Linked DNA regions of Homo sapiens. The protein of the gene in region 1 purifies or fractionates together with the protein of each later gene. This does not show direct contact. Each region holds a gene or a part of one and is shown in the gene's direction. Other genes may lie near its edges.

What was found.
Region 2: the proteins of C3AR1 (region 1) and SLC35F5 purify together in Homo sapiens (affinity purification with mass spectrometry; 2 studies listed by BioGRID and IntAct, with this or other methods). This does not show direct contact.
Region 3: the proteins of C3AR1 (region 1) and ZDHHC13 purify together in Homo sapiens (affinity purification with mass spectrometry; 2 studies listed by BioGRID and IntAct, with this or other methods). This does not show direct contact.
Region 4: the proteins of C3AR1 (region 1) and AGPAT4 purify together in Homo sapiens (affinity purification with mass spectrometry; 2 studies listed by BioGRID and IntAct, with this or other methods). This does not show direct contact.
Region 5: the proteins of C3AR1 (region 1) and HELLS purify together in Homo sapiens (affinity purification with mass spectrometry; 2 studies listed by BioGRID and IntAct, with this or other methods). This does not show direct contact.
Region 6: the proteins of C3AR1 (region 1) and RDH14 purify together in Homo sapiens (affinity purification with mass spectrometry; 2 studies listed by BioGRID and IntAct, with this or other methods). This does not show direct contact.
Region 7: the proteins of C3AR1 (region 1) and VEZT purify together in Homo sapiens (affinity purification with mass spectrometry; 2 studies listed by BioGRID and IntAct, with this or other methods). This does not show direct contact.

What each region holds. Positions count from the first base shown.
Region 1 is NC_000012.12:8,056,360-8,059,859, reverse strand, and holds the end of C3AR1 (C3a anaphylatoxin chemotactic receptor), read left to right. Parts: coding exon 1-1,123; 3' UTR 1,124-3,016; downstream 3,017-3,500.
Region 2 is NC_000002.12:113,750,143-113,753,642, reverse strand, and holds part of SLC35F5 (solute carrier family 35 member F5), read left to right. Parts: intron 1-3,074; coding exon 3,075-3,218; intron 3,219-3,500.
Region 3 is NC_000011.10:19,120,168-19,123,667, forward strand, and holds part of ZDHHC13 (palmitoyltransferase ZDHHC13), read left to right. Parts: intron 1-3,500. UniProt on the Homo sapiens protein: Palmitoyltransferase that could catalyze the addition of palmitate onto various protein substrates. Palmitoyltransferase for HTT and GAD2. May play a role in Mg(2+) transport.
Region 4 is NC_000006.12:161,138,062-161,141,561, reverse strand, and holds part of AGPAT4 (1-acyl-sn-glycerol-3-phosphate acyltransferase delta), read left to right. Parts: exon of another isoform or gene 1-484; intron 485-1,095; exon of another isoform or gene 1,096-1,941; coding exon 1,942-2,140; intron 2,141-3,500. UniProt on the Homo sapiens protein: Converts 1-acyl-sn-glycerol-3-phosphate (lysophosphatidic acid or LPA) into 1,2-diacyl-sn-glycerol-3-phosphate (phosphatidic acid or PA) by incorporating an acyl moiety at the sn-2 position of the glycerol backbone.
Region 5 is NC_000010.11:94,552,288-94,555,787, forward strand, and holds part of HELLS (lymphoid-specific helicase), read left to right. Parts: intron 1-1,838; coding exon 1,839-1,961; intron 1,962-3,500. UniProt on the Homo sapiens protein: Plays an essential role in normal development and survival. Involved in regulation of the expansion or survival of lymphoid cells. Required for de novo or maintenance DNA methylation. May control silencing of the imprinted CDKN1C gene through DNA methylation.
Region 6 is NC_000002.12:18,554,223-18,557,653, reverse strand, and holds the end of RDH14 (retinol dehydrogenase 14), read left to right. Parts: intron 1-1,845; coding exon 1,846-2,463; 3' UTR 2,464-2,931; downstream 2,932-3,431. Other genes in the region: NT5C1B-RDH14 protein, read left to right, coding at 1,846-2,463. UniProt on the Homo sapiens protein: Retinol dehydrogenase with a clear preference for NADP. Displays high activity towards 9-cis, 11-cis and all-trans-retinol. Shows a very weak activity towards 13-cis-retinol. Has no activity towards steroid.
Region 7 is NC_000012.12:95,216,501-95,220,606, forward strand, and holds the start of VEZT (vezatin), read left to right. Parts: upstream 1-1,306; 5' UTR 1,307-1,350; coding exon 1,351-1,386; exon of another isoform or gene 1,387-1,845; intron 1,846-4,106. Other genes in the region: FGD6 (FYVE, RhoGEF and PH domain-containing protein 6), read right to left, coding at 725-740. UniProt on the Homo sapiens protein: Plays a pivotal role in the establishment of adherens junctions and their maintenance in adult life.

The sequences.
Region 1 (3,500 bases):
TGTCTTCCTGCTTACTGCCATTAGCCTGGATCGCTGTCTTGTGGTATTCAAGCCAATCTGGTGTCAGAATCATCGCAATGTAGGGATGGCCTGCTCTATCTGTGGATGTATCTGGGTGGTGGCTTTTGTGATGTGCATTCCTGTGTTCGTGTACCGGGAAATCTTCACTACAGACAACCATAATAGATGTGGCTACAAATTTGGTCTCTCCAGCTCATTAGATTATCCAGACTTTTATGGAGATCCACTAGAAAACAGGTCTCTTGAAAACATTGTTCAGCCGCCTGGAGAAATGAATGATAGGTTAGATCCTTCCTCTTTCCAAACAAATGATCATCCTTGGACAGTCCCCACTGTCTTCCAACCTCAAACATTTCAAAGACCTTCTGCAGATTCACTCCCTAGGGGTTCTGCTAGGTTAACAAGTCAAAATCTGTATTCTAATGTATTTAAACCTGCTGATGTGGTCTCACCTAAAATCCCCAGTGGGTTTCCTATTGAAGATCACGAAACCAGCCCACTGGATAACTCTGATGCTTTTCTCTCTACTCATTTAAAGCTGTTCCCTAGCGCTTCTAGCAATTCCTTCTACGAGTCTGAGCTACCACAAGGTTTCCAGGATTATTACAATTTAGGCCAATTCACAGATGACGATCAAGTGCCAACACCCCTCGTGGCAATAACGATCACTAGGCTAGTGGTGGGTTTCCTGCTGCCCTCTGTTATCATGATAGCCTGTTACAGCTTCATTGTCTTCCGAATGCAAAGGGGCCGCTTCGCCAAGTCTCAGAGCAAAACCTTTCGAGTGGCCGTGGTGGTGGTGGCTGTCTTTCTTGTCTGCTGGACTCCATACCACATTTTTGGAGTCCTGTCATTGCTTACTGACCCAGAAACTCCCTTGGGGAAAACTCTGATGTCCTGGGATCATGTATGCATTGCTCTAGCATCTGCCAATAGTTGCTTTAATCCCTTCCTTTATGCCCTCTTGGGGAAAGATTTTAGGAAGAAAGCAAGGCAGTCCATTCAGGGAATTCTGGAGGCAGCCTTCAGTGAGGAGCTCACACGTTCCACCCACTGTCCCTCAAACAATGTCATTTCAGAAAGAAATAGTACAACTGTGTGAAAATGTGGAGCAGCCAACAAGCAGGGGCTCTTAGGCAATCACATAGTGAAAGTTTATAAGAGGATGAAGTGATATGGTGAGCAGCGGACTTCAAAAACTGTCAAAGAATCAATCCAGCGGTTCTCAAACGGTACACAGACTATTGACATCAGCATCACCTAGAAACTTGTTAGAAATGCAAATTCTCAAGCCGCATCCCAGACTTGCTGAATCGGAATCTCTGGGGGTTGGGACCCAGCAAGGGCACTTAACAAACCCTCGTTTCTGATTAATGCTAAATGTAAGAATCATTGTAAACATTAGTTCTATTTCTATCCCAAACTAAGCTATGTGAAATAAGAGAAGCTACTTTGTTTTTAAATGATGTTGAATATTTGTCGATATTTCCATCATTAAATTTTTCCTTAGCATTGTCTAAGTCTTCCAGATTCCATTTAAAACCATTTCTTGTTCTCCTACGTGAGTGAAAGATGATCATATATCCTAATGCTTTGTTGTCGTGTGGTGTTGATGGTTTTAAACGAAAAGAAAGTGCAAAAAGAAAATGCCTGTGAAGACAAGAAGCCATGAGACTGAGTCTGGAGCATAGGGTTATGCAATGATGCCTGTCCCTGGGAACACCCCTGGGTACAGGATATAGAAATTTCCACTATTACATAGAGTTTCCACTATTACAACTAAATAAGCATCTATTGTGTGAAAACTGACTCATGAAATGTTATGAAAGCTGTGGTTTGGGGAGTTCTGTTTCTTCTAACTGCCTACCGGTTGGGCACCTATTTTCCACTCCTCTTCCTAAGCTCCTTAATTTCCTTATTACTCCCCAGCCTCCAAATCTTCCACATCAGACTTTGTGCCTCAAACAACCTCTAATTTCGTAAGATTCTAGTTACTCCCTTCCTCTTGCTCCAAATGAATACTTTCTAAGAAAGTATTTCAAGTGGAAGGAGAAAGAGGGTGGAGGATGGAGCAGCAATTCTTCTACTCTCTGCAACTGAGTACCCTACCAGGCTTGCCATCACATTTTAAAACATGACGACAGGCAACTTACATGCCAAAATTACCAAATATATCTTCTGGGTTTTTTAAATCCTTTTCTTTGCCAAAGTAATACATGCACATAGTTTTAAAATAATTTAATAAGGTATATAATGAAATATGAGGTCTCCTACCTCACTGTGCCCAAAAGTTCCCTCCTCCCACTCTCATTTCCCAGAGATAATCCTTGCACAATTTTAGATGTTTCCTTTGATAATTATCATGATGTTTCTAAATCATGTGCTTATGCTGCTCTTTTCTGGAGGCATGATAAAACGACTTCTTGTTTTGAAAGATGAAGATGTTTATCCAAGCACCCCATATTTTTAATTTGTTTATCCAGCATCCCAACATTCATTAATAACCATATTTTAATTCATTCATGACCACATATTTTTCTTCTACTTTGTCTATACACTCCAACCATTTATATAGCTTTCCTTCTGTCCCTTTTTCATTTAAAACAAAATTACCTAACTCCCTACCACCTTCTCATTTTTCTGTATATATAAATGTTTGTGTCAAACGTCTGAAATTTCTGGCTTGTTTGTATCACAACGTGGCCTCATCTAAACCAAATACAATGATGTAGTCTAAAAACAGAAAATGACATGTGTTTTAGACCTGCAAGACACTATCTGTTCAATGGCTGAGGTGAGGGTCTGGACTACAGATTTTTTATAAAGTATATGCAGAAAAATTACAAATCACTAGGAATTCTTTCAGTTGTGAAGAATGTCTGACATAAGATTTGAAGTGCTACCTTTCCAGCTTATATATTAATTTGCTTATATATTTGATATGAATAAATGCTTTTTTTCTCATGGGTCCTTGCGAGGCTCAGAGATTTATGAATCCTTTTGTTTCACATTCAGAATATATCACATCTCTAAATATGCAGCAAATAAGTCTCCTAGTGAGTGACTATAGACTTGCTATAATAGCAATTAGCCAGGCTTCCAGAAACCCCAGCACATCCCATAAGACCCTGGGAATAAGACCTAAACTCCTGGGGTTAGTGTATAGGATATCAAGGTGAATAATCTTGACGCAGTTATAAAGATTTAATGTACAACGAGTAATCAGCATTTCTGGACTCCTTTTCTTTTCCATTTGCTTTGGAAATGTATTCTGAAGAAATTCCTACAATTAGAGCTCCCTCATTTCTGATGAAAACCTGGTGAGTACCTGTAACTATTTTGTACTGTATCTTCTCCAGGAAGTCCCAGATGGGAACACAGCTCCTGTCCAAAGTATAATATCTTTTCTTTTTTTTTTTGAGATGAAGTATCACTCTGTAGCCCAGGCTAGAGCACAGTGGCACACTTGGCACGATCTC
Region 2 (3,500 bases), on another chromosome or scaffold:
TTTGTCAGTTGTACTTTGATGAAACTGGAGGAAAAAACTCAACTTACCTTAATTTTTTTAAAGTAAAATATTTTAGTAAGAGGATGTTTTACAATCTCATTATTCAAGAATGTATGTAATGTCTCTACTTCTTCAACCAGTTATGCTCATTAAACTTTGGAGATAGGGCCAGGCGCAGTGGCTCACGCCTGAAATCCCAACACTTTGGGAAGATCAGGTGGGCAGATCACCTGAAGTCAGGAGTTCGAGACCAGCCTGGCCAACATGGTGAAACTCAGTCTCTACTAAATACAAAAATTAGCTGGGTGTGGTGGTGGGTGCCTGTAATCCCAGTTACTCTGGAGGCTGAGGCAGGAGAATCGCTTGAACCTGGGAGGCAGAGGTTGCAGTGAGCTGAGATCATGCCATTGCACTCCAGCTTGGGCAACAAGAGTGAAACTCCTTAGCAAAAAAAAAAAAAAAAAAAAAAAAAAAGAAAAACAAACTTTGGAGATAAAGTGTGTATTTCAAAAAGAAAATCAGTCTTTTTATTATGGTTATTTTCTAACATATACAAAGTAGAATATTATAATGAGTCTCCATGTATTCGTTACTTAGCTTTAGCACTTAACCAAATTTGCCAACCTTATCAACCTCTCCTCAAAACTTTTTTTCCTGGAGCATTTTAAAGCATATTTTAAAGCATATGTCACATGCCATTTCACCCACGATTTCTTTCCTATTTACTTTAAACTGAAAAGGACTTTTAATTTTCTTAAACATAATCACTATGCCATTAACATAGTTAACACAATTAACTGTAATTCCTTAAGATCATCTGATATCCAGTCTATGTTCAGTTTTCTCCAGTCCAGTTTTCTCCGGTGGTGTCAAGCACTTTTTTTTCCCATTAAGTTTGTTAGGATCTAAATGAAGATCACGCATTGCATTTGTGGTATCTTTTACTCCTTAACTGTATCTTCCCTCCTTTTTTTTAATACCATAAATTTGTTGGAGAAACTGGGTCATTTTTCCTATTGGATGTATCACACATTCTGGATTTGGCTGATTGTTTCCTTGGGGTATCATTTAACTTGTTATTTTTCTCTTATTTCTTGTAAAGTGGTAGTTAGGTGTAAAGTCTTGATTTAGGTTTAGTTTTCAGGAAAGAATACTTTGGGGTACTGAGTACTTCCTGTAACATTCCAGCATGACATACATAATGACTGCAAGTCTCACTTTAGATGATGCCAATTTAAGTACTATAAAATTCCTCACCAACTTTTAGGTAATAGTTGAATATCCACGTTTAAGTTGTCTAGATAAAGTATTTCATTAGGGGTTGCAAAATGGTGATTTTTTTTTGAGTTATTCCCTCTGTATTTATTAGCTGGAATTCTTTAAGTCTTTTTAATATGGCCTTATTAATCTTTTTTTTTTTTTTTTGAGATGGGACAGAGTTTTGCTCTTGTCACCCAGGCTGGAGTGCAATGGCACTATCTCGGCTCACTGCAATCTCCGCCTCCCAGGTTCAAGCAATTCTCCTGCCTCAGCCTTCTGAGTAGCTGGGATTATAGGCACCTGCCACCACGCCCAGCTAATTTTTGTATTTTTAGTACAGACTGGGTTTCACTGTGTTGGCCAGGCTGGTCTTGAACTCCTGACCTCAAGTGATCCACCCGCCTTGGCCTTCCAAAGTGTTGGGATTACAGGCGTGAGCCACTGTGCCTGACATCTTATTAATCTTTAACATTTTCTTTCCACCACAAGATGCCCTGGGCCCATCTTGTACATTTTCTGCTCCATACCTGGATTTGGCCATTTATTATAGGAGCCATTGTTTCTTTTTTGGGGACAGAGTCTCACGCTGTTGTCCAGTATGGAATGGTGCAGTGGCATGATCTTGGCTCACTATAACCTCTGACTCCTGGGTTCAAGTGATTCTCCTGCCTCAGCCTCCAGAGTACCTGGGATTACAGGCAGGTGCCCCCATGTACTGCAAATTTTTGTATTTTTTGTAGAGACAGGGTTTCGCCATGTTGGCCAGGCTGGGCTTAAACTCCTGACTTCAAGTGATCCACCCGCCTCGGCCTCCCAAAGTGCTGGGATTATAGGTGTGAGCCACTGTGCCTGGCCAGAGCCATTGTTTCTTTTAGTGTAAAATGGCGTGGACCACCATTTACGTCCTAGAGTTGCACTTTCCTCCTGGATTGTCATTTTTTTCTATGCCTTTTTAGTGGATATAACTAGGAATTTTCTTAGGATATAAAAAATTGTGAGTTTATATTCACAATACACTAAAAACAAACAAACAAACAAAAAAACAGTCTCCCTTGGGAAACGTCCATAACCTTGAAATTTGTCAGTCTCCTTTTGGTGCTCCGTGGCATCCTGAACCCGTCTCTTGTTACTTGGCACATGATGCTGTATTCTCTTCATATATATGTCTCCTCTATTAGATGTTAAGCTCCCCAAGGGCAGGATAACTTCCCTTCCTTCTCTTTTGTTTTTCTTTATGAGATAGGGTCTTTGCTCTGTTGCCCAGGCTGGAGTGCAGTGGCTTGACCATGGCTCACTGCAGCCTCAACCTTTGTGAACTCAGGGGATCCTCCCGCTTCAGCCTCCCAAGTAGCTGGGACTGAGGGTGCACGCCACCACCCTGGCTAATTTTTCTATTTTGCTGCAGAGACGGAGTTTTGCCATGTTGCCCAGGCAGGTCTTGAAATTCTGGGCTCAAGCAATCTTCCTGTCTTGGTCTCCCCACGTGCTGGGATTATTGGCTTGGGCCTCCGCGCCTGGCCCTGTCTTACTTTTCTTTAGCTCCTAGTGTAGGCACTGTTTCGTGGTAGGTCCCAACGAATGGTAAACCCAACTTCTTTTAGCAGCTGTTGCTGCTTTGTTTGGTGGTGCCCTTCTGTGTGCAAGGCCGATACAGTCTTCAGAAATGGATCTAAAATACTTTTGTAATCGCTTTGACTTTTTCTTTCCAAGTGAACTTCTGAAGAGTTAAAAATCATGTAGTGACTTTATTTTGGAGATGAGTAATAAGGTTTAAGGTCATCTCAGAGTTGTCTGTGTAACTTTTTCCTCTACAGTATGTTTTTACCCAGTACAACAAACCATTCTTCAGCACCTTTGCAAAAACATCTATGTTTGTTTTGTACCTTTTGGGCTTTATTATTTGGAAGCCATGGAGACAACAGTGTACAAGAGGACTTCGCGGAAAGCATGCTGCTTTTGTAAGTTTTTAATTTTAACTGTCTGTTAGGAAGGGGGTATAGATACGTTTTTTCAAAGTTTAAAGATGTATTAGTTTCTTTAAGGACGGTCATATTTTAAGTTGTTCAGTTAAGTGAGTGAAGATGATATAAGAAAACCGGCTCTTGTCCAAAATTTTAAATTTATTCTTCTAATTAAGTAGTATCAGAATAGTTTGTGAGAACTCTTACTCCATGACATTTTCTGAGTTGTTAAAAATTCTTGAATTAGCCCAAATCAATTAATGTGGCAATGAAGATGAA
Region 3 (3,500 bases), on another chromosome or scaffold:
CAAAACATAGTGGTATAAAACATGGCTTTGTCATGCTCATGGACTCTGTGTGTCAGGGACTTGGAGAGACTGCAGCAGGGTTGGTTTGTTTCTGTTCCACCATGTCTAGAGCCTCAGCTGCAAAGACTCATAAGCTGGAGATGAATTGAGAGCTGGGGCCAGTATCTATGAGTGTCTTCACTTACATCTGGCAGTTAACTTTCAGTAGAGACACCTACACGTGACCTGGGCCTCTGCACAGTATAGTGGCTGAGTTCCATTAGTGACCATCTAATGAAAGAGCCAGGAAGAAGAAGCTGCCAGTTTCTAGGGCCTGAGCCTGCAAACTGGCACAGCATCACTTCTGAAATATATTATTTGTGAGGTAGTCACAAAGCTCAGAGTCAAGAGGAAGGGACATAGACCTTTACCTCTTGATGGAGAAGTAGCAAATAATTTTGAGGCTATGTTGTAAAAATTACCACACATGTATTCATATGTCTGTTAGATAATTTTCATAATATCTTGTTCTGCTTTTCACTCTTCTGTGGAGGACAGTGAGCTAGCTACATATTTCTTTCTTGGTATCTCTCTTTTTTCCCTCTTTAAATTTTTTTTCCCTTTGTATCTTAATTAAAACAAAAACAACAAAAAAACCATTTTATTCTAGTATCTTGAGGTGGTTGTAGACTGGAATCCTAGGAAGACGAGAGGAAGTAAAATGGAATAGAATCATAGAATACTTGGAGCTGGAAGGCTTTTCAGTGAATTACCTAGTTGAGAGATTCTTAAACTGGCATATAGGATAAGCTTCAGGGCGTTAGTGAACATCTTGAAATTAGTGAACATCTTGAAAAGTTAGTTTACATGTGCAGTTGTGCATTTCTCTTAAGTAGAGAGGCCTTAATTTTGGTAACATTTTCAAAAAGGTCCATGACATTTGGAAGGTTTGAGAACCATTTATCTAGTCTAGCCCTTTAACTTTTCCCATGAATTCAAGACGCAAAAATAATAACTTACTTTCCAAAGGTTCATGGCAAGTTAGCAGAGCCCAGGTGTCAGGGCTCCTGATGCAGTGCATTTTCATTGCTAGTCAGGTGGTCCAGTCATGATACGATCTTGTTTGATTGTTTGCTGCCACTTGGAGTCCACCCATTCTTTAGGTCAAGGTCTGAGGAGTAGTCTGTATTTTACTCTGCTCTGAAAATGGGGAAGGGAGTATATCCCTAACTAGAATATAAGTTCCTTGAAAACCAAGGACCTTGTCTGTTGTTCATTGCCATGTTGCTGTGTCTACAATAGTGCCCAGCACGTAGTAGGCATTCAGTAAATGTCTAGAATGAATGTATTATGGAAGGAACTGTGTCTTATTCATCTTTTATCCCTGATTACCTACTTCTGTGATTTGTATAGGTGTTCTTTATATTTCCCTGAATGAATAATTGATGAAAACTCTTGGGAGTTGGCTGGCATCATGAGAATTTGCTTAGTCTGTTCTGTTACCTTAACATTGTAGGCAGCCATGTAGCAGTTAAGCTTCTTTATCCATGTAGTGTGTTTGTTCATACAGTAAATTCTTTACCAGTTCACAAGTCAATAGTGACTATTGTAATAGCTCACCTTAGGACCATGCAACATGAGACTTAGAAGGAGCTTTATGGGTGTATTGATATGTCCCTTTCACTTTACCAACGTAGAAATGAGCCAAAAATAGAGTAGATGATTCACCACTATCATACAGTCAATGTGGCAGTACCAGGAATTTGGTTATTTGGCCCGTGTCATCAGTGCAATCAGGAGAGATTAGGCTGAGAGAATACTGTGGAAGCAGGGACTCAATGTGTCTTCTTCCCTATCTTTTGAGACTCAAGGTTACCTGTCTTCTTCTCTGTTGTGTCCTTGCCCTCCTTTTCCTGACCTTGCTTCACAGAAAACTTCACAGAAAATAAAAATTTCAGCTCTCTTCTGTTTGAACATGGGGATAGGAGCTGGCGGCCAATTTCATATTGTCGTGGGTCATGTTATTGTAGGATTTGACATGTATTTCTAAATTATATTCATTAACTAATAGCTCAGTATATGTTCATGGCAAGATTTGAATTAAAGATGGTGGTTATAAATCTGCCTCAATTTAGCCTCTTGACAATTTTGAATTTTTTCCAAGGGGGTACTGACTTGTCAGATTGGATTAGATCATCTTTGTTTATACTTCATGTGTCTGATAAAGAGTTCCTGATCTGCTATTTTCTTATTTGCTTGTGCTTATTATTATTATTATTATTACCTCAATTCATGGCTTCTTTGTAGAAATCAGCTTAAGCTACTTGCTCATTTTGGGAGAGGTAATTTAGTTAAAATTTAACAATATAATTTGAAAATAATCTAATATATATTGTAAAATGCTGAAGGTCCTACTGTCAACTCTCTGTTTGTGGAAGCTTTCTCTGCCCTTAGGTTACCTTGTAAACAGAGTATAAGGAGTGACCTGCTTGGCATATCAATAAATGAGACTGCCATCGTTAAAAATTAGTAAAGCTTTCCTGCCAGCAGAGGTGTGCTAAAAAGAAAAAATAAATTTGGTAAAGCTTTAAAAACTCAAATTTGTAAATTTTATTTTTCCTTTTTAAGTAAAAAGATAAAAAATTATTATAATAGAAGCTTTAACATTTTCTCACATTACCTAGTGGGTCACTGCATATATGGCTTTGAGTGTACTTTCCTCACTTTGTAGATGATTGACTTCAAACACAAGCTTTGAATATAGTCATTTTTAGGTTTTACTTTGATCTGCATGCGGGTAAACAATGATGACATGAACGGAAGATATCTTCTGTTTTCTAGTTTCTTAAAGTTGCCATTTAATCATATATAATCACATATTGCCTGCTATTATTATTTCACTCTGTCTCTGACATATCTCCCTTATTAGACTTAAATTCCTGGAGGATAGACACCCATGTCTTATATGCCCTTAGCGTAATTGTACATCATAAATACACAGTAATTAATTGCCGACTAAACAAATATTCTCAATTGTGGATATTCTTCACATTAAAACATGTAAACCTCCTCAACTTTATACATGAAAAATAAAGCTGATGTCCTTAATGCCTTAAAATAGTATAAGAAGCAACAAATTTGTATCTAGAATGAGTCAGTTTTCTGTGATGAAAAATCTGTGTATAAACAAAGGGTCAGGGTGGGGTGTGGTGGCTCATGCCTGTAACCCTAGTGCTTTGGGAGGCCAAGACGGAAGGATAACTTGAGGTCAGGAGTTTAAGACCAGTCTGGGCAACATAACGAGACCAGTCTGGGCAACATAACGAGACCTATCTACAGAAGAATAAAAAAATCAGCAGGGTGTGGTAGTGCTTGCTTATAGTCCTACCTACTACGGTGGGTCAGGTGGTAGAATCACTTGAGCCCAGCAGATAGGGCTGTAGTGAGATTTGATGGTGCCACTGCACTCCAGCCTGGGTGACGGAGTAATACCCCATCTCAAAAACAAAACAAAAAAGGCT
Region 4 (3,500 bases), on another chromosome or scaffold:
CCCCCTTGTCTAGTTATCAGGTGCCCTGTGGCCCCAACCTGGGATAAGAAAATCACCCCGTTCTGGTGGGCAGGCGAATGCCGCTGCTTCCCTGGCAGAGTTGGGTGCCACCTCTCTGGGCATTGCCTGTGCTGCTGACCGTCATGGTGCTCACCTCCTTGTCTCCTCCACCATCTGATCGCTCTCACTGCTTGAGGGTAGGAGTGCTTGGCACACACGTTGATTGTTCTTCAGTTGCTTGATGATGTGACTTCCCCTGAGAGCCCCCATGGCTTCTCTTGGCTGATGTCCAACAGCAGAGTCACGCGACAAGTGACGCTTCGGACCAGGCTTGTTAATGGGCTGCAGGGGGCCGAGGACAGAGCAGAGGCACCTGAACTGCCCAGGGAAGGGGTTGGGGGTTCTCCTTCCAAAATGGCCTAGTGTGTGGACTATTATTAAAAGTGCCTCTGAGAGGCCAAGAAAGCCTATGATTCAGTACACCCTGAATGAAAAAGAAGAAAAGTATGAGATACTTTAGACTTTTCTATCTCAAGTTGTTAAAGGAAAATATTCAGCATTTAAGTAGTATAAGTTTCAATTATAAGGAAGCTCATTTTCCAGAAAACTCGACTCCTTAGAGAACTGGGACATTACTAGGCTAGTTCATGGGACACAAACTGGGCCTCACTGTGACCCACACCCATTTTTGTGTGGCGTGCATGCTATCGGCCACGTGCAGCTTTTACAATAGCTGAGGCAGCTGCCCACCATACAACCTGGGCAATTCCCTGTGGCTGCCTGGTTCAGCTCTGCTCCCTGCAGGCAGCTTCTGCCCTGGCCCCTCCTCACGGCCAGGACCTGCCCTTAGACGGGCCAGCGGGCATCCTGGTGCCACAGCTCCTTGTTCCCCCCAGGTCCTGGCTCAGCTCAGCTCCCAGCCGCTTGAGCACGCCTGCTGACCTGGGTTCCTGGGTCCCTCCCTTGTGTTCAGCAGCTCCTTGCGGCTGAGCCCCAGTCCCTGAGCGGGAGCTCCGTGACATGAGACACCCAGGGAAGAGCCACCGCGTTCTTTCGCAGTGCATTTATGTGGGGCCGTGAGTCCCCTGTTCTCACCCAGGGACTGCAAGGAGCGCCATGAGGCTCTGGAGTAACTGCCCTGCAAGCTGCTCGGTGACACACACACCCTGTGGGTGGATGTGGATGAGTACATGGTTCCCACTAAGGATCTGCTTAGTGGAAGGACATGAGCCTGTTTGTTTACCTTTCACACGGTCTAACAATCACTTAGAAGAGTCACCCTGGACACCCAGTCCTGAGTGTGCTGTCACCTCTGAGAGCCACACCCAGCAGCCCTCCAGCCCTTTGTCATTCATGATGCCTTGAATCACGGCCCTCAGAGCCCTCCAGTGGCAAACAGGGTGGTAGGTGCGGGTGGGCTGCCCGAGGTGAACTGGCTGTGGAGGCCGGGAAGGCGGGGCATGTGCCGGGCCGGGCTGGGCGAGCTCCTCCTGACTGCGGGCCAGGTCTCCACCGAGTGTCCCCTGCGGGCAGCTTCGGCGCAGCATCCACTCCATTCTCCCGCCGACCTATCGTGGAAGGCACTGCTGCCCCATTAGACAGACTGGGGCCTGGGCTCAGGGATGCAGGTGCCTGCCCACAGAGGGTGGATCCTAGCCCAGGCTGGCCTGGCGCCAGGGTTCATGCTCCACGCCCTGCACTCAGTGACAGCTGCAGCGGCCCCACCACTCCCAGTGTCCCTGTGGGAGGGGCGGCCAGATGCAGCTTTGAGAAGACAGCAGCTGCCTACAAAGTGCTTTCTGGAAGGAGCTGCAGACCCCAGTTCTGCCGAGCCCCGGTGGCACCTGTGTATCTCTGCGATTCCCTTGGAAGCAGGGCCTCGGGAGGGACCTGCCACCGAGCCCCGTGTGGCGTCTGAGGGTCCTCTTTCCTGTCCCCCAGGATGCCTTTCAGGAGGAGTACTACAGGACGGGCACCTTCCCAGAGACGCCCATGGTGCCCCCCCGGCGGCCCTGGACCCTCGTGAACTGGCTGTTTTGGGCCTCGCTGGTGCTCTACCCTTTCTTCCAGTTCCTGGTCAGCATGATCAGGAGCGGGTCTTCCCTGACGCTGGCCAGCTTCATCCTCGTCTTCTTTGTGGGTGAGTGGAGGGCAAGGGGCTGGTGGGTGCTGACAGCACCACCCTGGGAGAGGTGGCATCAGGGCTGGGACGAAGGCCATCTGTATAGGCAGTTGTGCCGTGGATGAGGAGCAGGCTCAGCTTGCAATCACAGGGAAAGATTAGACTTCAGGATGAGTGCGAGGCCCTCGAATACCAGGCCTGGGACCCCCTCCGCAGCCTGGACGGTCCAGCCTCCCACCTGGGGCTGGATTCCACACGTTCCCTGTTGGGTGGTGATGCAGCTGCCACTTCACTCCCCGACAGCTGGGAGTGCTCCCTCCCTGTCCTCCGCAGACAGCTCTGCTCATTGGCATCATTTCCTGCTTCTGAAGAAAGCCCTGTGCTGGAGCCTGGCGGGGACGGATGGGCAGCTCCCTGCCTTCCTCTGGGGGCGCCTGTGGCTTCTCCTTTGCTGCAGGTGGATGACACTGAGTGGAGACACTCGGCGACAGAGCTTTTCATGGGTCTGCGCTGGCTCCAGGTGACCGGTATTCTCGGGCTACTGCTGCTTCTTGGTGGCAAGCCCCTGTGCACCCTGCTCCTTGCCTCTGGCGGGGCAGCCTGTCGTGCCTGCTTCCTGCCCTGTGAACAGCAGGTCCGTGCTTCCTGGAGCCAAGGAAGACTTTGGGGTTTCCCTGTGAAAGGCCCTGTCTCCCCAAGCCTGGCGTCCTCTGAGGCTTTGGAGAGCCCGGGAGAGACGGCACATTGTCCAAGCACACAGAGATCACGTGCTTCTTCCAAATGGACAGGACTCAGTTATTTTCTGTCAAACACAAAGATGCAGTATGCTCACTATAAAAGGCCCAAGCAATAGACAAGCGCAGAAAATGGAAAGTGTGTCAGGAGACCATTCCCATTGAGCCCACTTCCCAGATAATCGTTAATGACAATTTGATGCACGTGGTGGTTCCAGTCTCAAGCATATGTGCATCTATAAACCCGTATCAGTGGAGTTTCTTCAGCTCGCCTTTTCACCTAATGAATCATAACCACCAAAACAGGTCACAGCACATAAACCTAGCTCATTCATTCTGACTGAGCCAACCAATGCTGCAGCATATGGGTGCAGTAGACAAGCTGGCTCCTGTTCCTCAAATAGACCCTACTATACAGTCTTTTGAAAGATTAAGATGTATTTTAGTGTTAAAAATTAAAATATTAAAACAACACCCACACCGTGTAAGGGAAAAAAATAAGAGGTTGGAGAAGAAAGCACCTCATCTCCTTAAGGCAGGTCCAGGGGCACCCCCATGCCCCGCCATGCTGAGGCTGGCCAAGGGTCCGGGGCAGCTGCAGGTGCCAGGGCCCCTGGTAGGGCGGGGGCAAGCTCAACCCTTCT
Region 5 (3,500 bases), on another chromosome or scaffold:
TAGAATCTTTTTAATTCTAAAGTTAACTTAAGTGTGATTTTTAGTGCTGTTGCTGAGGCCAGTGTTGCTTAAAGCAGGAACTTCTACAGTAATTGACAAAACTTGAGTTTTTCTGCTCTCATTTATCCATCCTTCAGACCCCTCAGATGTCATCTATTTCCTGAAATCTGACTTCTCCAGTTTTAGTAATTCTTACAATTTTTCAGGATTTAGATAGTACTGTACAGTTTACTGCTATGTATATGTCTTTAATACTTGTTGTTTTCAGATATTACACTAATGTCTCATCTGTAGTATAAATCAGACTTTCTGTCTTCTACCAGTTACATAATTTATATAATTGTTGCAGTACATGTTTGTTGATTTACTAGGCTGGATTCATGTTACAGAATTGGTAATCTTGGTTGGGCATGGTGGCACATGCCTGTAATCCCAGTACTTTGGGAGGACAAGGCAGACGAATCTCTTGAGTTTAGGAGTTGGAGACCTGCCTTAGCAATATGGTGAAACCCTGTCTTTACAAAAAAAAAAAATACAAAAAATTAACAGGGCATGGTGGCATCTGCCTAGAGTCCCAGCTACTTGGGAGGCTGAGGTGGGAGGGTGGTTTGAGCCCGGGATTTGGAGGCTGCAGTAAGCCACAATTGCACCAATTACAGCATGAGACCATGCCTTAAAAAACGGGGTGGGGGTGTTAATCTTGGCTAGATGTCTGTTTTGATTGTTAGGATGAATTGTGTTGGTAGTATTTTTCTAAAATGTTCTATCCAAATCAACTTGTTTATTAATCTCAAATAGGGAGAGACTCTGAAAACTTGTCTTAGAATTCTCTAGTGTCACCTAGGCAATCACTTTTTATGAGGGTCAAGTGCAAAATTAATCAAAAATTTTCCTTATCTGTACATAACAAGGTAATATAATAACACGGAACCACAACATCAATGTTTTAGCAAATTACACATACCTTTTTTTTTTTTTCCGGACGGAGTCTCACTCTGTCACCCAGGCTGGAGTGCAGTGGTGCCATCTCAGCTCACTGCAACCTCCGCTTCCCGGGTTTAAGCAATTCTCCTGCCTCAGCCTCCTGAGTAGCTGGGACTACAGGCATGCGCCACCACGTCCTGCTAATTTTTATAGTTTTAGTAGAGATGGGGTTTCACCATTTTGGCCAGGATGGTCTCAAACTCCTGACCTCAGGTGATCCACCCTCCTCGGCCTCCCAAAGTGCTGGGATTACAGGCGTGAGCCACCGTGCCTGGCCCCAATTTTTTTTTTTTTTTTTTTGGTACGGAGTTTTGCTCTTGTTTGGAGTGCAGTGGCATGATCTCGGCTCACTGCAGCCTCTGCCTCCCCCGGGTTCAAGCGATTCTCCTGCCTCAGCCTCCCAAGTAGCTGGGATTACAGGCATGCACCACCACGCCTGGCTAATTTTGTATTTTTAGTAGAGATGGGGTTTCTCCATGTTGGTCCGGCTGGTCTCGAACCCCCGACCTCAGGTGATCCGCCTGCTTTGGCCTCCCAAAGTGCTGGGATTACAGGTGTGAGTCACCGCACCCGGCCTTCAATTGTTTTTTAAATGGACCTTCCAACTCAGTAGTGCCAGAAACCATGTGTTCAATATTTGAAATTATAATATTTTGATATACGAATTGCATCTATCAGATTGCCTGTTAAACCCAAAAACTATTTTTTTTTTAACAGTTATTTGTTCCAGTTTTTGGTTTGAAAGTGTTTGGTTTAAAAAATGTTATTTTAGCCATTTTTATTAAACTTTATGCCAAAAAAATTAAGGTATGTCAGAAAGTGTTCATAATTATGGAAATTTTCTCTTTGGATAGGCTCGCATGTCTTGGGATAGAGAGTCGACAGAAATTCGGTACCGTAGACTTCAACATTTGCTTGAAAAAAGCAATATATACTCCAAATTTTTATTGACGAAAATGGAACAGCAACAATTAGAGGTATGTATATGTAACTGACTACAAGTGAAAGCTTAAAAAAATTTAAAAATAGCTTTATTGAAGTGTATATTATATACAGTAAAATGGACAGATTTTAAGTGTACGGTTTGCTGAGTTTTGACTAGTAAATATATAGATCTGTGTAACCACCAGCACAATCAAGATACAGTGCACTTCCATGAACTCCAAAAAATTGTCTTGTGCTGACAGTAATCCCCATGGCTGGTGTCCAGCAACTACTGATTTGCTTTCTGTCACTATAGACCAGTATTGTTTTTTCCTAGAAAATTGTATAAATGAAATCATGGTATTGTGCTAGTGAGTAAATAGTTGGTCTTCATCACCATTTCCTGGTATACAACTCTTGAAATCCTTGGAATCTTCAAAGTAATAGTGTTTTTTTTTTTGTTTTTTTTTTTTTAATGCTAATGATCAATGGCTAGCTGCCCTTAGGTAGCTTCAGGATGGGAGCCTAAGAAAGACAAAACCTGGATTAGAGGGTTGGGATTTAGCCTCACCCTCAACTTTGAGGAAAAGAGACTGAAAGTTAACTTGTTCACCAGTGGTCACGATTGAATCAATCACGTCTATGTTATGAGGTCTTCATTAAAAACCCAAAAGGGCTGGGTGTGGCTCACATCTGTAATCCCAGCACTTTGGGGAGCCTAGGTGGGTGGATTGCTTGAGCCCAGAAGTTTGAGACCAGGCTGGGTAATATGGCAAAACCCTATCTCTAATAGAAAAATTAGCTAGGTAAGGTGGCATGTGCCTCTAGTCCCAGCTACTTGGGAGGCTGAGGCAGGAGGTTGGCTTGAGCCAAGGAGATTGAGGCTGCAGTGAACTGTGATGGCACCACTGCATTCTAGCCTGGGTGACAGAGCAAGACCCTGTCTCAAAAATAAAACAGGCTGGGCGCAGTGGCTCACGCCTGTAATCCCAGCACTTTGGGAGGCCAAGGCAGACAGATCACTTGAGCCCAGGAGTTCGACACCAGCCTGAGTAACATAGTGAAAACCCGTCTCTACCAAAAATATAAAAATTAGCCGGTCATGGTGGTGTGTGCCTGTAAGCCCAGCTACTCAGAAGGCTGAGGCAGGAGGATCGCTTGAACCCAGGAGGCGGAGGTTGCAGTGAGCCGAGATTGCACCCCTGGACTCCAGCCTGGATGACAGAGTGAGACCCTGCCTCAAAAATAAATAAATAAAAAAAACCCCAAAAGGGGACAGGGTTTGGAGAACTTCTGGATAGCTGAACACATGGAGGTTCCTGGAGAGGATGGCGCATCCAGAAAAGGCATGGAAGCTCTGCGCTTCTTTCTCCATACCTTGTTCTATACATCTCTTTCTCTGGTGTTCCTCTGAATATGTTGTAATCTTTCTTTCTTTCTTTCTTTTTTTTGGAGACAGAGTCTTACTCTGTTGCCCAGGCTGGTGTGCAGTGCACCATCTCAGCTCACTGCAACCTCTGACTCCTGGGTTCAAGCAGCCCTCCCACCTCGGCCTCCCGAGTAGCTGGGACTACAGGAGCACACCATTATGT
Region 6 (3,431 bases), on another chromosome or scaffold:
AAAAAAAATGGAAATGTAGATTTCCCACAGGTTGGTATTCTTGGTATTTATTTCATTTATCTCGTAGAATTTAAAAAAATAGTAAATGACAAAATTTTAAAATAACACAAGCCCAGCAAAGAATGCTGGATAACAAATGATTAATTCAGGAAAATCTTCCAAAGGATTTGTGAAAAAGAATACTCCTTTCTTTCCCCCATGAGTGAACTCTTGCCTTCTTTTTGAAGTTGACTATTGGAAAACCCAAAGATGCTTAGACAGGGCAGAATGAGAAATAGTTAATCCTCTGACAGGTGGGCTTCGATAACAGTTGTGAAATGTAACACATTTTTCTTTTCACTTATAGTTGGCAGAAGGGCCAGTGAAATTTGAAAGTTGACCTCATATTAATCATGGGTCATCACAGTGTCTTTACACTTGGAACATGTGCATTTCTTTGTCCATCAAAAGAAACAGAACAACCGAGAAAAGGCTAGAGAAGACCATCTTACATGATTTAAGGAATAAAAAGACTTCCCTATGAGAACAGTCTAAATTTTAGGACTTTAATTTGGAAAGATACAGAAGCATAAGTTCAGAGTATAAAATGTTGACTGTACAGATCTCCTAGAGTCCCCTTTACGCTGGATATTTTTATATTACCTGATTATTTTTTTCTTAATCTTTGATTATTCTTTATGAATCTCGATTTATTCATGATGTTCTCTCCAGTGTTAAGTTTGCATTTCTGACCTTTTCTATTGCTTGTTTCACTTTTAAGGAAATGACTTGAAGTTGTTCCACCCCCATGGTGCCATTTACCCTGAGAGAACTACAGAATAAAGCAACCATAAGTTTGCCCTTGGTGTTGATAACCAGTAGCTCTGGGAATAAACTATGCTTACCTGTTTTCTACAGCATATGGTCTGTCTAGCTTTCATTGCCTCTCTAGCTGTTTTGAAAATCCCAATTAGAAAGCCATGCCAGCTTACTAATTAAGAAAATAGGCCTTGGTGTCAAAGACTTCATCTTCAGATCTGATCTTATTTTGCTACTTAGGAGTTCTGATACTGGGCAAGTCACCTAGCCTGTGAGCTTCATTTGCTTATACAGTTGTTGGAATTAGATGTGGTGACATGCGAAAAGCACAAAGCCTGGCTCCTATCAAGCTTCTGCATCTATTTTTTTTTCTATTTTTCTCTCAATTATTGGAAGCTCATAGAAGCATTTTGGGATAGAATTTTAGTAGTTTGCAAGTATTTTTAAACATTTTATCATAGGTACACTTATAATTTTGATATGATCTCAGTATTAACCTGATAACTCCCAAATTGATATTTTCCTAGTTCAACTGAAATTAAAGGGAGAAATATGGGATTGTAGGAGTGCCTTGTCCTCAAATTGACTGTATTTCTGTTTTGAGAAAGATCTTGGTACTGATCACGTAGTCAACTTTCTAATGCAATGTTAAAGTTTATATATTTGTAAATGTTATTGTTATAAAAGCATAAAACCAGAAATTAAGTCTTAGATTTAGTTTCTACATCTTTTATTGGAAGATGACTGTAGATAAATATCTTTCTGTATATCATTTTAATAAATGAGAAAAAAGAGCTGTTGAATGAAAGATCATGAACATCAGTATTTATCTGAGGAACATCCTGCGGAGGAATCCCTTTCCCCATTTATTAAACACAAAATTGCCAGTGTTTCAAGTAGTTCTCTGATCGATAGACCAACAACTGAAATTAAATGCTTTTAGTCTCAAGTGCCCATTTTTATTAAAATGTAATTATCATGAACAGAAAAAGCAATACAAGGCGTGTGTTCTTAATAATTCTGCCATTCTCTTTTTGACATTTAAAGGAAGAGCCTAGGCTGGATGTCTTGATCAATAACGCAGGGATCTTCCAGTGCCCTTACATGAAGACTGAAGATGGGTTTGAGATGCAGTTCGGAGTGAACCATCTGGGGCACTTTCTACTCACCAATCTTCTCCTTGGACTCCTCAAAAGTTCAGCTCCCAGCAGGATTGTGGTAGTTTCTTCCAAACTTTATAAATACGGAGACATCAATTTTGATGACTTGAACAGTGAACAAAGCTATAATAAAAGCTTTTGTTATAGCCGGAGCAAACTGGCTAACATTCTTTTTACCAGGGAACTAGCCCGCCGCTTAGAAGGCACAAATGTCACCGTCAATGTGTTGCATCCTGGTATTGTACGGACAAATCTGGGGAGGCACATACACATTCCACTGTTGGTCAAACCACTCTTCAATTTGGTGTCATGGGCTTTTTTCAAAACTCCAGTAGAAGGTGCCCAGACTTCCATTTATTTGGCCTCTTCACCTGAGGTAGAAGGAGTGTCAGGAAGATACTTTGGGGATTGTAAAGAGGAAGAACTGTTGCCCAAAGCTATGGATGAATCTGTTGCAAGAAAACTCTGGGATATCAGTGAAGTGATGGTTGGCCTGCTAAAATAGGAACAAGGAGTAAAAGAGCTGTTTATAAAACTGCATATCAGTTATATCTGTGATCAGGAATGGTGTGGATTGAGAACTTGTTACTTGAAGAAAAAGAATTTTGATATTGGAATAGCCTGCTAAGAGGTACATGTGGGTATTTTGGAGTTACTGAAAAATTATTTTTGGGATAAGAGAATTTCAGCAAAGATGTTTTAAATATATATAGTAAGTATAATGAATAATAAGTACAATGAAAAATACAATTATATTGTAAAATTATAACTGGGCAAGCATGGATGACATATTAATATTTGTCAGAATTAAGTGACTCAAAGTGCTATCGAGAGGTTTTTCAAGTATCTTTGAGTTTCATGGCCAAAGTGTTAACTAGTTTTACTACAATGTTTGGTGTTTGTGTGGAAATTATCTGCCTGGTGTGTGCACACAAGTCTTACTTGGAATAAATTTACTGGTACAAATTCTTAACTGTGCATTTCTTTGGAGGCTTCACTGAATACAGTCCTTTATCATGTCACCATTAGCCTATGCTGATCTTGGTCTGCCCAGTCTCTTCTTGCCACGTATCTTGTACACTGCTCTGAGAGATAATATTCCTAAAACCCAAATCTATCACATTCCTGCTTAAAAAACAGTGGGTTTTGAGCCTTAAAAAAAAAAAAATTTGGCAGAATTCTTTCTTCAAAAGCGGTGTTTCACTGAAACGTAGAAGCTGGAGGGGGTAAAGCAGGTTATCGCAATGCTGCCAAGGTGGAGTCCCCCACGGCAATTCCTAAAGGGATTTCATAGAATATAGTGGTTTATAAACCACTTTTATTTAGACTAAAGATTAAACTGTTGAAGATAGAGTTGAGGCTCCATGAGACAGCACCATGCTTACCCTATACTCTCATACTCAGCACTGTTCAGTAGAACTTTGCAGTGAGGAAAGGAATACTCTGTGTTGTCTGATGTGATGGACTCTAGAA
Region 7 (4,106 bases), about 87 Mb from region 1:
GAATGTTCAGAAACACAACGTCTAGAATTGCTGAAAATCCACACAAAGATAGAGGCTTTGTCATTTGGATGAAGGGGAAAGAACTATGGGAGGCAGACAGAAAATAAAGCTTTGTTTACCCTAATCAGGTAGAAACAAACAAAATAATTGTAATTGGGTGCAGACAAGCAAAAAAAAAAAAAAAAAAAAAACCTCAACAATCTCAACTCCTCTGCTTCTCAGGTAACAGAGGTAAAACCACCAGGACATGACAATGTCTACGCCTCTTTAAAATGGGTAAAAGGTTTACCAGCAGATACAAGGTTGAAAGCGACTCACTTAGTGGCCAAATTGAACACGCTGAGAACACTGCCTTTACCTATAATAACTGATCTATTAACTTGGGAATCTACACTATTTTCACATGCAAAGGCGAAGTCCTCGCACTGCTGGAGAGATGAGCGAACGCCCTTCACACATCGCATTTCACCTGGTGCAGAGCCCCCAGCACAGTCCCCCTTGGAAGGGAGATCCCGAGAAATCCCGGGTTTCCAAACAGCCCCTCTGGGCAGGAAAAGACGAGAAAGCCGGCAGCGAATCCCATTAGCTCCGCGCTTGCCGAGGTGCTCGGCAAAGGTACGGGGCACACAACTCGCCCACCCCGGCGAAGAAAGTTGCTCGCGAGCCCAAGCCTAGCAGCGCTCGCCACAAACTTTCCCGCGGCAGCGCGAGCGCCGTCACTTACCGGCTGCAGAAGTCATGATTCCCCGGTGCAGCTCGCTTCCCCGCTCGGCCCCTCAATCCATCTTCCCCTTTCAGTCCATTGTTCCCACAGTTCGGGTAGGAGAGAAAAGCCCCCGCAGCGCCCACATTCCGTCCCGCCGCCCCGCGGCGCAGCCTGAGCGCCACACAAAGGACGCGGCCGACTCTAGCGACCCTGCGGCGCTCCCGGGCGCGAGCCGCCGGGGTCGGGCGGGCGAGCACTAGCACCGCCCCGCAGAGCGGCAGGCTGACAGCCAGGCGCGGGCACGAGCAGTGCTCTCTTCGGCTCCGCTGGCGCGTGCCCTTCTCGGGCTCCAAAAATCAGCAGTGCTCCGGGCGCCCCCTGCTAGTCGCGGCCGTAAAAGGCAGACAAAAGCCCTAGCCTCCTCCAATCGGAGGGCTCGAGCTTCAGCTCGCTCCCGCCTCTCTCGCTTACACGCTCACTCTCTTCTCCAATAAGCGGGCTCGAAAAGGGGGCGTGAGCGGCGAGGCATATTGGGAATTGTAGTTTTCTGGACCCACGGGACGGGCAGGAGCTGGAGCTCCGTGCCGCCTGTACTCCCGCCTTCATTTCCCATCGTGCTGAGGCGGGTGGCATGGCGGAGAAGGATGACACCGGAGTTTGACGAAGAGGTGGTTTTTGAGGTAAGAGGAAAATGGCGGTGGGTGTGGATTGCCTTTGTTTGAGAAGGACGAGACGGAAATCGAGGAAGCAAGGCGTTCCCGGGGCGAGGGATCGGGTGACGCGCTCCAGCTGGCCTCGACCACCGAACCCCAGCGATTTCAGGGCCTAGAGTCCGTCGTCGCCTGACAGGTGTAGCCAGAGGCGCCCTGGCCGTGGCCGGCCTCTATCTCGGGCCCGCCCAGAATTCCCAGACGGTGCCCGGTTGCCAGGCTCTGGGCTGGAGCGGTGTCTCTTCCTTCCTGGGAATGGATGTGCGGCGGGGGGGACTGCGCCCGGCTGGGGCGGGGCCGAATCGTGCCTTTTAGATAGTCACAACTTAGCCTCCTCCTTTTCCATCCGCGATTTTTTTGGGTCAGTATCCAGAGTGCTTCAGGTCACTGTTCACCGTCAAGGCGTGGCCCTCGGAATGAAGGCAGCAGGTGCCCGTTTTCTAACACGGTTTAAAGTCTATTTGTGGGACCTACTGTGGGTAGTTAGGGCCAGGGCATCTCAGCATCTAGATTCGATTCTTTTGTCCTTTGCTGTTGCGCTAGGTGTAGCCAGTTCTTCTGACTCGGGGCTCTAGATGTGAGTGCTTTTGTGTGGGACTATTTTAAGACGTTCTCTGCCATCTTGAATGAAAAAAATCGGGCGAGTGTTTTTGATGCCATTTTTTTCCATCAGACACAGGTCAAAACTCGCACCCCTGTACGTATGTGTATTGCATGTATACGCTTTACTTTCATTTATCCAACTAGATTTTAAGAAAATTTAAAAATGAAGTGGCCCATGCCATACAGCGAGAGAGCGAGGCACAGACAGGACAGAATGCTAAATGTTGAAATATGTACAAACTGTCATTGAAGGATTAATTTCTGTTCTTGCGGCCTCCCAGAGGCTACACCCAGTACGCGATATCCGAGGTGAATCTTTAACTATGAATTGGATTAGAAAAACCGGCAGGAGAAAATGTATTACAGGGAAAGAGAACTGATTATGCCAAGCTTGGGAAGTGTGAAAGTACCTGGTGTGCATTTTTAGGGGGCGGGGTGTGGAGGGTGGCTATGTAAAGTGGCTTGATGTGGCTGCAATGAAGAAGCAGTGGAAAATGTGGCCATTTTACCGAAGTGAAGAGTCTAGATATGAGGCGTTCATTAGGGAAGACAAGGGCCTGAGATGAAATGAGAGACGTAATGGAATAATGGCTTGGACAGACACTTGTAAGTTAAAATCGAGGCAATGTTTATAGATTGAATGTGGTAGCTGAAGGAGAGAGAAATATTTTCTAGAGTAAGGGTAACTGATGGGTGTATTTTTTTTACCCATTATTTTTGATTTCTGAATATAATAGTAATATATGCTCAAGGAACATTTTATTGTAGAAAATAAGCCCCCAAGTTAAAATCATCCATTATCCCACCACCCAAAGATGGTAACTATTAACAGTACGGTATGTGTTCTTATAGACTTTATTTCTATGTAAATGTGTGTTTATGTGTGTGTAATTTTTTAGCCTCTATATTAAGACACAATGTGTGTGTGATATTTTTTAAAACAAAAGGTATACCACGTAGAATTTTGTATATATTTTTCACTTGACTTTATCGTGAATCTTTTCCCATTCATCATTCTCTGAAAACATTAATATTATAATATCCCCTCACGTGTATCATAATATAACCTTTTTTTAAAAAAATACCATTGTAATCAACAGTGATATAAGCCTATTTTTAACTACAACTCTGATTTTCCTCAGAATAATTTTTAGAAGTAGAACTAGTGGGTGAAAGAATATGAACATTTAAGACTTACGCAGAAAGGTTATACCAATTCCGGTTTCCATTAAGAATAAGAGAGTATTGGTTTCACCAAATCCTCAACAACAGCCTTAACAGTTTCCTTTAATCTTTGCTAATTTGATAGGCAAAAATAACATTCCATTGTTTTAATTTACATTTTATGCATTTATACATTTATTAGCTATTTTTATTTCTTTGAACATTTCTCTTCATATTTGTTGCTCATTTTCTTATTAGATGCTAGCTTTAAAAAAATTGACTTGCGTGAGTTCTTCATATATTACTAAGCCTTTGTCATACTTGCAGAAAAATTTCCAGTTTGCTGTTTGTTTGCTCTTTGATATACACAATTTTTATTGCAGTATAATTTACATAAGGACAGGGCACAGATCACAAGTGTGTGGATGGTTATATTTTCACATGTTGAGCACACCCATGTAACCAGCACCCAGATCAAGAAACGGGACAGATGGGGCATGGTGGCTCACACCTGTAATCTCAGCACTTTGGGAGGCTGAGGCAGATGGATCCCTTGAACCCAGGAGTTTGAGATTAGCCTGGACAACATGGTGAAACCCTATCTCTACAAAAAAGACAAAAATTATTTGGGCGTGGTGGCACATGCCTATAGTCCCAGCTACTCGGGAGGCTGAGGTGGGAGAATCACTTGAGCCTGGGTAGGTCAAGGCTGCAGTGAGCCATGATCGCACCGCTGTACTCCAGCCTGGATGACAGAGCCAGACTCTGCCCCAAAAAAATAAAAAATGAAAAAAGAAACAACATCACCAGCACACCAGAAGCTCCCTCCTGGTCCTTTCCATCACTACTCCCTACCCCAAAATGATCACTATTTAAACATAATAACCTAGATTAATTTTGTCTATTTTTATTGTTTAGACACT